2 separate regions of the Homo sapiens genome follow, and region 2 is linked to region 1. The links come from fine-mapping of genetic effects on gene expression. A gene starts in region 1. The other region holds a variant in brackets. All regions are shown on one strand. Distances are from middle to middle.

The links. PIP is the estimated chance that this variant, and not a neighbour inherited with it, causes the effect.
Region 2: its variant is the best candidate, but not a certain one, in a credible set for the expression of ASB2 in blood mononuclear cells (TOPMed, PIP 0.89).

Annotation. Positions count from the first base shown.
Region 1 is chr14:93,972,966-93,980,965 of GRCh38, forward strand. ASB2 (ankyrin repeat and SOCS box containing 2) reads right to left here and starts at 3,605. Exons shown (of 10, transcript NM_001202429.2): 1 at 3,469-3,605. It overlaps LOC107984663 (a long non-coding RNA gene), which reads right to left. Exons shown (of 4, transcript XR_001750861.2): 4 at 4,460-8,000. RefSeq lists an enhancer at 2,086-2,657.
Region 2 is chr14:93,950,822-93,958,821 of GRCh38, forward strand. ASB2 (ankyrin repeat and SOCS box containing 2) reads right to left here. Exons shown (of 10, transcript NM_001202429.2): 3 at 5,945-6,049; 4 at 3,496-3,662; 5 at 2,531-2,686; 6 at 178-423. Among named protein-coding and RNA genes, the nearest start is that of MIR4506, 6.5 kb to the left of the region's middle. RefSeq lists enhancers at 3,077-4,054, 4,165-4,871, 4,872-5,576. The variant G/A (reference allele first, on the strand shown) is at 4,546.

The DNA.
Region 1 (8,000 bases):
ATCTCAGACCTTTTGATGCTGATTTCAAGCTCCCGGCTTTCGGGTGCCAGGGCCTTGGGGCTTCCAAGGCTGGGCTGGGGCTGCTGGAGGTGACTCAAGAGGTGTGCTCAGGGCTGCAGGCCCCAGCTGACTCCACAAGACAGGGCTCTTCTCTTTGTATGGAGTAGGGGTGTGACTGCCCCTACATAACCCTGTAGGAGGTGACAACCAGGGATTTGAACCTGTCCAAAGCTGGCTCTGCTCCCACGCCAGCAGACACTCTGTGCCCATTGTATAGAGGAGGAGACTGAGGCTGCATCTGAAATGGAGCGCCTCTTGCTGATCCAAATCTTGGTGAATCTCTCCCGAAGAGTCTAAGACCCTAACGAAAAGTCTTGGTAATTTATTTACTTATTGATGTACATTGAGGATGCCACTCCAAAAAGAGAGCAAGAATGATGGTGAGAGGAAGAGAGGGAAGAAGGAAAAACACAGGAAAAACCTCCCTGTAGAAGGTTTTTTGAATGTGGAAAGTGCCCTGTTGCAATGATGAGCATCCATTCTGCACAGGACATGCCCACTACCTGCGGCAGTGCCCACACCACCAGCTAAGAAAAGCACCCACAAAAGTCAAGCTTCCAGTTTACTTCTTTGGGCCCCTGAGCTATTGAGTCTCCAGGCCCATGGGTGACCTTCGTCTCCACCTCCTGAGTGAAGGGCCCTTCTGCTGCCTCCTGGCCCTGCCAGAGGCTGGCCCCTCCCCGCATCTGTGTGGCTCAGACACTCACAGCTCAGGACACAGGATTCCAGGCCCCTGACCCATATTCTGCCCAGGCACTACCAATGCCAGGATCTGCCATCTGTGCCAGTGACCAAAGGTGGGGGTGACAGGGGTGGACGGGGCTGGTCAGTCCACCTCTGAGCCTCCCCAGCACCCCTGCCCTAGCACAGCCCGCCTAGCCCTGTTCTGTCCTTTGGGCAGACAAAGACGGCGGACCCTCACCTTGGTTCCTTAGTGGCAGAAGACACAGGGGGTTCTGGAGGCTTTAACTCCAGGCAGCAGAGCGGGAAGGCTCAGGCAGGGCAGGGGGAATCCTCCATAGCCCCTCCTCACCTGCAGGGCTGGCTGGAAATCTTTTAAGTTAGATCTCACCCAAATCGGCGAGGTTCTTTTTCCTTTTTTATCCTCTCTCCTCTGAGTTCCCCTGACCCCGCCTCCATTTAAATCTTTCTCTTCTCTTTTCTCTGCTTTCCTCTCTCCTTTTTTACTCCTCTATGTCCCATTCTTTTTAAAAAACAGATAGTTTAGGAATTTCAATTTACCTTTATTTCAGCACCACCTCCCCAAAAACATTCCTCCCAACCACAAAGCTCTTAATAACTTCATTTATATTCCTGGGCGTTAATTATTCCAAACAATGGTGCTAAGGAAAGAGAACCACAGACACAAGCCACTCCTGTGACAGCTGGCTCCTGTGGGCAGCCTGATCCTCTGCAGCGCAGAAATGGAAGGACACTGGGCAGGCCCAGAGATATTTTTGTGCCTCCTTTGGGAAGGCTCTTTGGATCTAGCCTGTCCACAATATACGGGCACCTTATGATGCCTTGAGTGTGCCAGAGACATTTCCCCTGGGTGCACGATGGTCCTGTTTACCACTGCCACAGTACCTTGAGAGGCCACAGGACGCTGTGGCTTTGAATGTGGACCTTGCAGACCAAAAGGTCAGATTCCTGACTCCAACACTTGCAGCCGTCCAGCCTTAAGCAAGACTTTTAAGCTCTCATAACCTGTTTCCAGACCTGAAAATGGGAGTAACGATCACCTGTAACTCATGGTAGCCTTGACCGAAGTCAGTGAGAGAAATCTGCACACAAGCTTGGGCCAGTGCTCAACAAAGGCTTGCTGGTATGGCCTGTGTTGTTGTTCACTGTGAGGTCACCGTGCGTGGGTTAGACAGTGTCCCCCACCCCCGCCACCACAAGGCACTCATGACCCGGCCTGTTTGTGCAAGAACAGATGATGCAAACCAGCATGGCACCCAGCGGAGCTGCTGCCAGCTTCTTGGGGACGCTGTGCAGCACATGGGCCTGCCACCAGCTGTCAGGACCCGTCCAACTGTTTTGGAAGTGCCTCGAGCATCTGCCACTGTCTGCCTCATGGTGCTTCTGCCCAGGCAGAGGTCAGGGCTGTGGCGGGGGTGCTGGCCCCAGCTGGCTCTGCCTGCGTCCCTCTGAGCCCCCTCAAGCCCTCGCCTCACGAAACAAGCTTATCTTCAGAAGAGCATTCCTGTCCTGTGCAGGGGCTCAGCTTCTGCCCTGCTTCAGGCCTTCCTCATTTACCTGCCCTCCCTAGGAGTCACCAGCCTCCTTGCCTCCTCATTCCAGTGCATACCCCTGGCTTCCCGAAGAGCCACCGAAGCCAAATCTCACATCCTCCAAGGGGAATGGGCCACTGAAATGAAAATGATTCTCCACCTAGAGGCACCAGAAACCAAGTCATGTTTCTGGGCCTCCACCTCTGGGGCCTGAGATGTGAACACACGGGTGGGAGTGTAGGTGCCTGGCTGTGTCCCTTCATATCCCAGATGCTCAATGCATGTGGCTATGTGCATGCCGTCCTCTGCTCAAAAACTCTCAGAAAGTGTTCCAACTTCTTGCTTGGCCTGGAAGGATGTGCCTCTCCCTCTGGCCTCCCCTTCTAGCCTCACCCCCATTTTTCACATGCAGAACCCTTTGCCAGAGCCACATTTCACTTTCCATCATCACCCCAGGTCCCTTGACTTCCCTGCCTTTGCCCAAGCTGCTCCTCCACCTGGAGGTCTCTGTTTCCACCCTGAGGCATCCCACCCATCCTTTCAAAGGCCATGGCCTCCTTAAATGTGTCATGCATATGCGTGTGCACACACATGCATGGTATTCTTGCATCCCTGCATTCCACAGCTTTGTTGGATCTCACATAAATAACATTCCTCCATTTCCTCTCCTAATCCCCAAACAGTTGAAAGCAGAGCACATGGCACCTTGGCTGCTATGGTCTCCCACAATACCGTGCATGCCTAGGCACTCTGCAACAGCTACATTAAATTAACTCCCACTCATGAAAACCTCTATCTGTGCGCCTGGCCTGAAAGCATTTCTGAAAGTCACTTGTCTGACACAGATACCGCCCAAGACCTACAGACCCAACAATAGCATCATTGATAAGTCCTTTTGCATTTCCATTTTTAGAAGTGCACAGCAGAGTGATATTCTGAGCCAGAGTCCTCCAGAAGAATGGGTAAGTACATGCAAATTGCTGAGTCTCTGTTCATTGCATCCAAAACGAAAGTCACCAGCGTGCTGTATAACTCAAGAAAATACGAGAGAGAGGGAAAAGCAACATCACAGTTTGACTACAAGCGGTTTCCAGTAAGTACTGCAGCCGAAAATCCCCACCAGCCAAAGAATCTTTTGCAAGATCTGTATAAGAAAGTTGAAAGCATGCATTACCTGTTAGGCTCTGAAACAAGGGTACAATTCAGGGGTAATACAAAGGATTTTCTTGAAAGTGTCTTAATTCAGAACATGCTCCCCGAGTTTTCCTTCTGCCCTGGCCCCAAGCTTCTGGCTGCTCTGCCAGGCAGTTCTGAAACGCTGTCCTTTGAAGCAGGGAGTTTATTTTGGGGCCACCGCATGACCAACGTTGACAAGCCAAACTATAAGATGTTATACATCTCAGATTTCCTGTTTGGAGGTTGCACTGAGGAAGCTGCAATCCTGCCTTCCGTTCCTCCGGGTGCATCGAATACAGACTCTCACTTCAGAGAGGATCCCGGAGCTTTGGCCCTCACGTGATGTCATCATTTGTGATCCTTGACATGGAGGCCATATATGGGTATGTTTCTGGAACTACCCAGGGGAGAGCCAGACAGGAGAGAGATGCAGTGGGTCAGAGACAGAGGCAGGGAACGAGGACGAGGAGACGCATAGTTGGGAGACAAAGAGTGAGGAGCAAGGGAGGAGGAAGAAAGGGGAAGAGGAGAAGTAAAGGCAACAAAGGAGGGAAGGCAAGACAGCAGGAAGGAAGAGGATGGAGTGAAAGAGAAGGGAAGAAGGGGAGAGAGGAGATGAAGGAGTTGACGTAAAAGGGCTTTGGAGAAATCAAGGTTTGGTGCTGAGCTTGTGGCAGCATTTGGGGATAGCAGGTGTCTGGCTGCTGGATACTGTGGGGTGGGGCTGGGGATACAAAGGGCCAGGGTACAAATGAGCCAACAAACAAACACAGAGGCATGCGGGCAAGCCCTGGGCAGAGATATACAACAGAAGAGAGCCCTTCCTCCTGGTCTAGGGAAGAACGTCCCATTTCTGGAATAGGTCAAATGTCAAAGACAACACATACACAGCCACATGCACTGAGCATCCGGGATGTGACAGGACATGGCCAGGCACCTACTCTCCCACCCGTGTGTTCACATCTCATGCCTCAGAGTTAGGGGTCCAGAAACATGACTTGGTCTGTTCCTCTAAGGGGAGAATCATTTTTGTTTCAGTGGCCCATTCCCCTTGGAGGATGTGGATTTATGATGGCCACAGCATGATTTCTCACTGATTCAAACTCAGGAAACCTCAGGATGCCTTTACACGCACTTCGAATATTCCACAAGGAAATACATCTCAGTATACAAGGTGCCACGGGGTTGAGTCAAGGTTCTGGAGGTCTGACTGGTGCTAAAGATGGGAAGGACACCAGTGGTCCCCAGGCAGTCCCCCAGCTTCCCTGGTACCTGCCAAATTGCTCATCACCCCAGCTGGGTCAGTCTTCCCAGGCCACTGTGGCTGGGTGGCCCTCAAAGTTAGCTCAAGTTCAGCCCCTTCCAGACCCATGTGCTATGGAGGGAGTGTAGGAGAAGGGCAGAGAAGGGGCTGTCAGATTCTTTTTACTTTTTGGAGACTCTGCTACCCAGTAGGATGTTCCCCGAGAGACGTCTCTGTGGGACGGCTCCCCGAGGCCGGGCTGCTTTCCTGGGCTCCTTGCTGGAGGCAAAACACAGGTTCCTCTACTTCCTGCCCACCACCTGCCCCTTCCCAATCTGACCTGGAAGGTGGGCTGTGGCCAGGCCAGGCCCCTCCTAGGTTGCCCTCTGCCTCATGGGCATGCACACATGCACACACACACACACACATACACACCCCAAACTCCATCCAAGATGTGTCTATTCCTTCCCTCCCCTTGAATATGGGGTGGCCTAGTGATGGACTTAACAATAGAATGCAGTGGAAATGATGTCCTGAGACTTCCAAGGCTAGGTCATGAGATGCTTTGTAGCTGCCATGTTGTGAGGAAGTCCAAGCAAGCAACACCCAGGGCCCCCAGAGCATCTAGCACCAGGCAGAGGGGTGAAGACACCCTCTCGGAGGTGGATCCTTCACCTGCAGCTGCCACAGCTAATGCCACGTGGAGCAGAGACAAACCACCCACAACTTCCTGACCCATAAACCACAAGCTATGATAAAAGGATTGTTTCGTGCCACTGGGGATTGAGGTAGTTTGATATGTAGTAATAATCAACCCAGACACTCACCAAATATTCACTGCGGTCTCAGCTGCATGCTCCTCAGCTCTCGTGTGCTACCCGTGAACTTTTTTCTGACTTTCCACTTGTCTTTGTTTCCATTTAAAAGAAGAAAAACAGATTCAAACTAAATTTTTTTTTACCTCACTCTTTACAAAAGAATGTAGTCCCAAGTCATTTCCCAGTTCTTGGGTTTATCAGACCAGAAGCTCCTTTTGGCTGAGATTCTGTCTTACAGGGGAATTGTGGTCCCTCTAACTGGAGGGACTCTTGGCTATCCTGGTGTTCAGAGCCCTCATTTACTAGTTCAGGCCCCAAGAGGTTCTGTGCCTTCTCTGAGATCACCTGGCAATTTGGGGGCAGAATAATTCACACATTGAAAGCCATGCCAGTGGGAACCATGCCCCATGGGATCAGACGCTGATGTCCTAAAGCACAGACACTCTCCTGACAAAGGCAGGGACAGCGTTCAAGCATCTGACTCGAGCCTGTGGAGGGCAGGCAGTGTGACCCAGAGGAAAGAGAACTGTGCTGGGATCTGGCCCTAGCTGCTCATTAGAATCATATTACACTTACCTATGCCTGCCCCACCCCAGAGATTCTGATTTAAATAATCTGTGTCGAGGCCCAAACAGGACTGATTTTTAAAAACTTTTTATTAAAGTTCAGTATACCCACAAAAAAGTGCAACTTTCACATATGTACAGCCCAGTACATTTTCACAGACTGGACACACCCAACATCTGAATATTACAAGCACCTCAAGAGCTCCCACCACCCACCACCTCCTGCCAGGGGTGACCACTCTCCTGACTGCTAGCAGGACAGGTTCCTTTGAACTTCATGTGAATGAAATCATTGCGTCTCGTTTCATTTAACAACACATTGCGAGACCTGCCCATATTGTTTCATGGAGTTGTAGATTGTTATTTTAATTGCTGTGTAGTATTCCATGCTATGAATATATCACAATTTATTCATTCTACTGTTGATGGACATCTGGGTGGTTCCCAGTTTTGGGCGATGATGAAGAGTGTAGCTATGAACATTCTAGTACATGTCTTTTGGTAAATATTCATACTCCTTTCTCTTGGGTATACACCTAGGATGGGGATCACTGGGTCAGAGTTTAGGTCTTCTTTCAACTTGAGTGAAACTGTCACATGGCTTTCCAAAGTTGTGTCAGTTTGCACTCCCATCAACCAGGCATAAGAGTTCCAGTCACTCTATATCCTTACCAACAATTGGTAGATTCCATCTTTTTTCTTTTTTTTTTTGAGATGGAGTCCTGCTCTGTTGCCCAGGCTGAAGCGCAGTGGTGAGATCTCGACTCACTGCAACCTCCACCTTCTGGATTCAAGCGATTCTCTTGCCTCGGCCTCCCAAGTAGCTAGGATTACAGGTGCCCACCACCACGCCCAGCTATTTTTTTTGTATTTTTAGTAGAGATGGGGTTTCACCATGTTGGCCAGGCTGGTATCGAACTCCTGACCTCAGGTGATCTGCCCGCTTCAGCCTCCCAAAGTGCTGGGATTACAGACGCGAGCCACCGCACCCAGCCTCCATCTTTTTTCATATTATCTATTTTGATGGGCATCCGTGGCATCTTGTTGCAGTTTTAATCTGCACACCCCTGATGACAAATTACGGTGAGCATTTGAGCAGCCCTGGCCTCAGTGATCTCTGGAGCCTTTCCGGGGTCCCTAACTTTGCACAAGGCCCACCAGCTACCCTGGGAACAGCCCTCCAGGGAGGGTTTTTGTGGGGAAACAAAGGGAATAGAAGGGGAATAAAAATGCAGAGGCAGAAACTATGCAACTGATCAACCTGCAAGGGAGTGGGAAGAAGAATGTGGCCACCACAGGAAAGCCCCAGGACTCACACCTGGAACCAAGGTGGGTTTCACTCTCCCAAGCCTAACTAGAACCTGCCCTCCCTTACTCTACCCCCTCACCTGGCATTATCCTCCCTGCTGACCTATTCTATATTTATCTCCCATATGTGCATTGCCTGTTTCTTCCATCTAGAATACTTTGTCCTTCTGTTCACTGCTGTGTGTCGGTGTCTATAGCAGTGCCTGGCACATAAGAGATGCCCATTCCATAACTGTTGGACATGTGTGCCCACACTCAAGCCCACAGTCCCTGAGGCAGAATTGGGAAGGGCCTTGGTTCTGCCTGCCAACCCGAGCCTGGCCGGTGGCTACAAAGACACACACACACTTTAGGTCTCTCCCTTCCAGACATCCCTCTCTGTTTATGTCAGCCTGAATGCCCAGGAATAAAGGGGTGCATGTATGTATTGGAGAGGCCATTTGCAGGGCCCTATACCTAGTCGGGTCTAGGGGGAACCAAGACCAGCACATGTTTCTGTGACAGTGACACCTCTTCCAGAAGGAGGGAAGGAGAGTGGAGGAGGAAGAGCCAGCCAAGAGCCCCCGGGAGCTGAGCTGTGAGTCAACGCCAAGTC
Region 2 (8,000 bases), 22 kb before region 1:
CTGAGCCTGGACACAGCCTCAGCATCTTTCTCAACACAGCACTCTAGGAGGAAACTCTCACTCCATCAGTGTGCGCACAAGATGACCCCTAACTCGCCTTCCCTTAGAGCTGACCTCTGACATCCTTCCCGTGTGCCCTTTGGGGACTCCATGACCTAGGGACCCTTAGCCACTCACCGTACTTGGCTAAGAACCTCAAGGCCTCCAACTGTCCACTCTGGGCGGCCACGAACAAGGGGGTGATGCCGTAGGCGTTCTTGGATTCCACCTTGGCTCCTCCGCTCACCAGGATCTGCATGACCTCCAGGTCATTGCGAGACACAGACTCGTGCAGAGCGGTCCAGCCGCGGTTGCAGCGGTGGTTGGTGTCTGCATTGTGCTGCACCAGAATCTTCACGGCCTCCGCGTTCTTGCGCTCGCAGGCTGTGCTCAGGGGGAAGCAGGGATGGTCAGCAGGGCCTGGCAGGAACTGGCCAGCAGAGACTGCATTCATTCGCCTGTCCATTCACTCATCCACTCATTCAGCTTTCCACTGCATGTGTATTAAGTTCCAATCCCTGCATTGAACCTGGGATAGGCGACTAAAAGTAATACTGATACTAACATTAGCAAGAATACTTGCTGATTCATATGCCTAGTACTGGTTCTGTGCCAGGCTCTCTGTTCTAAGCACATTTTACAGGATTAACTAATTTAATCCTCCCAAATCCCCTTAAAGGATGTAGTGATGTTATCCCCTTTCACAGATAAGGAAGGTGAGGCACAGAGAGGGTAAGTGGCTTGCCCAAAGTCACACAGATACTAAGTGGCAGAACTGGAATTCAAACCCTGGTAGTCAGGCTGAAGGTCTCTGTCCCCTGGGATGTCCCAGGATGTCCCTATCATTTCCCCTTCCAGTGGTACCTGCTTCAGTCCTCCACATTACCAAGGCTGGAAGAATCTTTCTAGATGAGGAGTCAGCGGTGTCATAATCCTGCTGAACTTCCCCCTGCTCCAGCAAAGGCTACTAATTTAGTTCAGGGTAAAATGCACGTTGTGAGTACAGCTCCTCAAGTCTTTCTTGACCTGCTCTAACCTCCTTTATAAGCCTCATCTCTCTCTAGACCCCAAACGTGCCCTTGGCTCTGGCCCCAGAGTTCTCACCAGGAGCTGCAGGTGGTATTGGAGTCACCTGGGCACTTTTCCAAATTAACCAGCCCTGGAAGCTTCTCTGTGTCCGTGTCAGTGGGAGGAGGAGTGAGGAATGGGTCAGGGAGACTGGCAGCAGGGGGAGGAGGGCTGCCTGTGTACTGTTTCAAATAGAACCATAGGCCAAGCCTTCTACCTCTCTAAGCCTTGACTTTCTCATCTGTAAAATGGAGAGAATAAAACCTTCTTGAGCAGATGCTATGGGAGTGAGACTGTGTGTAAGGCATGAGCATAGTGCTTGGCACATAGTAGGTGTGCTTGCAAGACCAGGGCCAAGCTCTGGCTGTGGGCTGCCCAGCTTCCTGGGCACTCCCTTTGGACAGCTGAGGTTCCAGGTGATAGCCATGGCGCCCTGGCAGGCACGGATTCCAGGGAAGACACTTCCATGGTGGGTCTGCAGCGGATCCAGTGACCTACTACTCAGTTCCTGCTGCCCAAGCTGTTCCAAGCACTGGATAGACACATGGGAAATCAGGGATATCTGTAATTTTTCCAAGTACAAAGGCCTGATCATTTGTAAGACCCCAGCTGATTGCTTCAGCATGTAGGCATGGACAGGATGCTTTAGAATGTAGTAGTTGAGGGCAGTGTGACATCCACCTCCCTGAGTTTAAACCACTGGGGTACCCCTTGCAAGCTGTGTGATCCTGGGCGACCCATTTAATGTCTTGGTGCCTTAGGTCCTCATATGTGAAAGGGGATACCAGCAGTGCCTACTTCATGTGCAGATGGACATGAGGGGTCCATAAGAGAACGGTGCCTGGCACATACTAAACACTCAATCAATGCTAGCTATTGTGATTATTTAGACTTTGACTCTGGGTACTGCTAGGGCAGCCAACAAATGTCCATGGATGATGTACTGAGTAAGCCAGGAGGCCTTGTTTTTCTTAAACAAATGTCCCAGAGGTACATGCTCTCGCATACCTTCATGCCTTTGCCTGTGCGGTTCCCGCTGCTTGGCCAGCAGGTGATTCCTCCTCTGTGGTTCAGCTCAGGCACCCCTCCTCTGGGTGCCCCTCCCCCATGCTCCCACAATGCCTCCTGCCAAGCCCTTTCCTGCTCTCTGTGTGTGGGTGCCTACAGGGCTGGGAGGGTGCACAGGTTGGACTATAGCTTTTCAGCTCCAAGCCCTCAGTGTCCCTCAGCATCCTGGCCCATGGGATGCAGTTGGAAAATGTTGGTAAAATACATGCAGGAATGAATGATTCAGTTACATAAATTGTGCATTTGAGCAGGGCCACGTTGGGGGTTATGCACTTAACGGGAGCAACATTCCCTGTTGCTCACCCAGCTTCTGGATTCTTCCGCAGGAAAGCTCACTCCGGGGTGGGGACCTCACCTTTGTAGAGCGGTGTCTCTCGGGATTTGTTGGAGATGTCCGGCTCTGCCCCTGCTTGGAGCAGTGACAGGAGACAGTCCAGGTGGCCCCTGCACGTTGCCAAGTAAACGGCTGTTTCCTCCTGCAGGGTGCGCTGGTCGATGGTCCCTGGGTACGCTAGGGAGGGCCCACCGGGAAATTCATGTAGGAGAAAGATACTCAGCCCCGCAACACAGAGGCTTTCCCGATTGCCTCCCAATTTCAAGAACAATGTATGACATCCTCTGAAATTTACCAACTACAGACTGCATTCATCTGGCCCTTTCACAGGGCCATTTTAGCTTCCTGGTCGTACACGTCCAAGCTCAGATGCCACGTCCTCTGAGAAGCCTTCCCTAATGGAGCCCCTCCCTCTTCGAATACTCCTGTCCTTTCCTCGAACTCACACCAGCCATTGCTGGAAACCCACTGTTACATGCCATGGTTTCTTGGAGTGTCGGGGGCCGTGTGGGGTCTGTGCTGCTTCAGGGCAGAGGTGACACCTGCCTGCAGGAGTTGCCCTTCTGAACCTGGCTCAGTAGGAAGACAGGGCTCAGAGAGGAGGCACGGCTGTCCCGCGGTCCCACAGCAGGTGGGGGATAGCCTTGGCCGGGCACAGGCACAGCTGCAGTATTTTTCACACCAAATCAGCCCCTGGGACATTCTGGAACAAGTTGGCAGTGGTTCTTCTAAAAGTCAGCCCTCCCTCATTCCTTTTCTAGGAATTAGGCTCTCCTGTCCTTGGAGGCCTGGAGAGGTGGCAGCAGGGGGTGGGGACAACTCATTTCCCCTCTCGTAACTCCATGACTAACTGACAAATGAAAGTGACAGCCTTGCCTGCCCTTCTCCCAAGATGATTGTGGGCAAAGAACATGAAGCCCCAGGAGCGGCAGCCCTTCCCCTAGTCCCTTTCCCACCTCTTGCCACCGTCAGAGCCCAGCCCTCACCTCGCTGCAGGACTTTCAGGCAGCCCACCTGGCCATAGTATGCGGCCTCGTGCAGCGGCAGCCAGCCCTCCTTGTTGGGCTCTGCGAGATTCTTCCCTTCCTTGATCATGGTCTTCAAGGCCTCTTCATCGCCATCCTTGATGGCCTTTATCAAGGGGTCCGCAGGCCTGTGAGAGGAAGGAGTGGGTCAGTCCTCAAGGTCAGGCCAAGGCCAGGCCAGGGGGCCTCTCTCTCAGGAGTGCTGGCAGTGGAGTCACTCGGTCCTCGTCCCTGCTGGTTCCAGGATGAGCACTCAGCCCCCTGCAGCCCAGTGGCTGCAAGAGGACTGGGGGATCCCTCCATCTCTGTGGCTTTCCATGGCTGCCGGGAATGTTATACCAAAACCAATTCTACCAAGAGGATTCAGGCACACAATGCCAGCCTCCTAGAGGGTGGCTAACCACCCACATGTGAGGCACTTGTGATAATTAAATGCTTTCCCTGAGTATAGCACTCTAGCATTTACCAGGCACGCCCATCTCGGGGGCCCCCTCTTAACCCTGAGCATATCTCTGGGGTCTTCCAACTCCTCTCCTTGCCCTGTCGCTTATTCCTACTCCCAGTACATCCAGCTGCAGAAAAAAAATATATACTGGAAGGATTAATAAATTTGAAGCCTTCACAGTTTAAAACTTCTGAATGTCAAAAAGATTTGAGGGCTAAAGTGAAGCCGTTCCTTGCTTGGCTTGTTAAAGTCCCTTTGTTCATTCATTGCTTCCTTCCTTCCTTCATTCATTCACTGAGCTCCCTACCTCATCCTTGGAGAGTCCGTGAGAACCACGATGTCTATGCCTCTCAGATCCACTTTTGGGGAGGCTTCTGCATCAATAGTCCCATTTCCCAGATGGAGAAGGTGAGGCTGGAGGCAGGCCTCATTCCCAGGACACCCACGCCATGTTGGGCTAGGATGGGCTCTGGGCGGTCTCTGCCACCAGCCCCTGCACTCTCCCAGCCACTTCCTCCAGCGTGAGCAGCACTTCCTCCTGACTCTCAGACTCTGTGGTTATTAAT[G/A]GTGTCAGAGCACAGATGCCGGTGAAGCAACAGACCCAGCAAGGACGATGGGAAACTGATCAGATAAGTCCTGAGGTCCCCATCAGCACCGTCACTGCCACCTTGACGAGTTCCACTTAGGAACAGCCAGAGCAGCCCCTGTCAGCATCAGGAAAAGCCCAGTGGGGGTATGTGCCCCCCTTTTCCTGGAGTGTCTCCAAAGGGACCCCAGCTGAAGTGGAAGGGAGGAGGGCTGGCTTTTCTCGTGGCCTTGGCGAGCAGGGCGTGGTGCAGTGTCGTGAGAACACTTTCAGGACCTGCCGCCCAGCTTGGGTCTCTCCAGCTGTGATGCAAGGACCCTGGAGCCCTCAGCCCACATATTCACAGCTTCTCCATGACCTCAGGCAAAGTCCCCGCCCTATGAGTGGGGGAGGGTTCTGGGGGTGTCAGGCCATCAGAGTAGTAAGCTGGACGGGACCCTAGAGGTCACGTTGCCCTCTCCAGCCGTGTCCTGCAGAGAAGGGAGACTCAGAGGGGACAGCGACTCTCAGGCAGTCATGCAGGAGGTGGCAGTAGCTGAGACCAGCTCTGGGTCTCCCTTTTCCAGATTGTCAACCACTCCACACACCCACCACACCAAGGAAGTGGAGGGCGACAGGATTTGAAAAAGGCTGGGAAGGAGAAAGAAAATATTGGCCAATTGCCTCCTCCCTTCTCTACAACGTAACTGAGTGAGGAAATGCAGTTCCAGTGATAGGGTCCCTCTTTTGCTTTTGGCTGCTTCCGGGGTCACTATTCCAGGGGTACAGAGAGGGGAGGGAGGCAGAATTATTTTCTAAGGAGCGCATTAGCCCTGCCCCCTGGTGCCAGGCAAACAGAGCCCCTGCAGCTTAGATTATTTCTGGATTTTAGCACCTGGCACTTCACAAATAAGGGCAAATAAACAAAACAAAGGCTGTGGGTGTGGGCATTTTGGATGTACCCACAGCGATGGCATGGGGGAAAGTGAGACTGGGACAAACAGAAGGGTGCAGCCAACTCATCAAGTTCAACTCCAAGCTCTCCTGGGCCTCTGGGGTTCTAAGGCCATCTCCCCAATTTCCCTCGTGCTGGGTCCCCAGTTTCAGAGCCCCATGGGGCTCCTCCAGCACTCAGGTCCCATGCTGGGGGCATCTGAGGGGGGGATCACCAGCATGCCTGGCTGGAAGTTCCTTGAGGACTGAAGTCTGTGGCCACCAAGCCCATCTCAGCAGGAGCAGTGGGGCCCCAGGGGGGCACCCCTAGAAGGAGCGTGCCTGGCAGGTGCCTCCATAGTGCCCTCTGCCCTCCTGGGGGCTGTGGGCCTGCTTCCCACCCTCCCTGCCATCCCAGTTAGCGGAGTGAACTTGGATGGTCCTGGGGCCAGACAGGAGTCACTTACGCCAGCTGGGAGGTCTTGAACAAGCTGCTGCTGTATTTCTGCATGACCCCTTGGAACAAGCCCATTGGGGCCCGGGCCGGCGAACTCTCAGGAGGTGCAGTGGACCTGGAGGGTGCAGAGCAGGAGTGAAAGAGGGAAAAGTACTCTGCATAGGAGAAGCGGGTCATGGCTTCAGGCAGGAATGAGGATGGAGGGAGAGCCAGGGAGAGACTGACTGACAGACACAGGGCTCTGAACCAAAGCAGATGGCCGGGTCCTCTGTGTGCTGGACACAGCTGCTGTGTCTCCGGATTATTTTTGGCCCTTGGAGGAAGCCCTGGGAGATTTAAATGACCATATAAGACAACAATGAGGTTAACCTCACCCCACCCCCCGGTCCCCCTCCCCAGCCAACCACGAAAGAGGCAGATAGGAAGCAAGGTGACATTCTTCACCCAGGAGGATGTGAGCCGTGGTCGGCAGGTCCCAGGATGAAAGGGGCTCAGGCTCACTGCTGGCCAGGCAGATCCCTGCGGGGCTGGATGAGAGATTCATGGCAAAGCAGAGGATAGGGGAGCAAAGCTGAGAAGCCAAGCTGTACCTGTGCCCCCCACGCCCACCTGCCAGCTCATTAGGGGATCTTGTCCCAGGGGTAGGAGCAGACACTATAGTAACCTCTATAGTGTTATTATAGGATGCATGAGGAAGGGCGTCGGAACCAGGGCTGCAGTCAGACAGACACAGGTTCACATCTGGGCTCTGGCACTCCTTGGCTGTGTGACGTGAGACAGGTTGACCTTTTCTGTGCCTTAGTCCCCGCTCCTGCAAGGTGGCATGAAAACAGCCTGTGCTCGAGGGCCGGTGAGGCCTGAGTAAGTGAATGGTGTGAGGAGCTTAGTGGAGTGTGAGGCACAGAGGGTGTTCCACATGTACTCACTCTTCATTTTATCATCATTTTGCCTCTCTAGGCCTCAGTTTTCCCGACCCACCAGGCTCCTGTGAGGGTGGAAGAGCCGGAAGGAGGTGGGATGGCCGCTCCACAAATCTGAGTTGGCCTGGGGTTGTCGTGAGAACAGGGTATATGGCCCCTACTGACACCACCCCCAGTAGGTCAGGCCTGGCACTCTCGACACCCCAGTGGCCCGGGCCTTTCACCACACTCTTCTGGGGGGGATTGGGGAGGACTCTGCTACCAGTGACTCACACCCTGTGGGGCATGGGGTAATTATGACCCTGAGAAGCACCCACACTCTTTCTGGCTAGGCCAGAGCCTACAGATTCTGTGGGTACACCCCAGCAAGGCCAGAGCCTGGTAGAGAGGAGCAAGGGTGGCAGGAGGAGGGGAACCTGCTCACCCCTCTGCTTCATGCTCTCAGGGCTGCCTGCAGGCCTGGCTGCCTTCCTCATCCTCGCCGCTGTCACGCCCTCCCACCTGCCTTCTCCCATCCCCTGCTTCTGGCCTTCTACTGACCCGCACTGGGGTGGGCAGGACACCGCCTGCATGTGTCCTCATTTATCCACATCCATCAACCGTAGATGGGGGTGCCTTTTACAGATGAGGACAGGGAGGCTGTGAGAGGGGACTTAACTGTGCAGGGTCACCTTCAGCATGACAGCGAGTGGAGCAGAGGTTCAGACTACCACTGTCCGCCCAGCTCCTGATGCCACCCTGTCCTCTGAAGGCCTGGCCTCTTCCTGCCTTTTCGTCCTCTCTCCAGCTCTCCGACCTCCACACTGACTGTCCCTGTGACTTTGGACAAGCCCCATCCCCGCTCTGTGCCTCAGTTTCCTTATTTGCAAAATGGAGAAGTGGGACCAGGACCAGACTGGGGATGTCCACACTGTTTCTGTAGCTGTGGAGAGATTCAGTGTCCAACAGATCCCAGAGCCAAGGCCCCTCCTCAGCCCTGACAGCTGCTGGGTTCAGTGTCCTTTGCATTAGTGCCTGGTCCTGAGAAGGAGAGACAGCCGGCAGGTGGAGGCAGCCTGGGGCCAGGCTCACCTCAGCTGTCTCCAGCCCTGTCGTCTTGATGAGGCCCTGGGCTTCCACCTCCCAGGATCCTTGGGTCACGGCCAC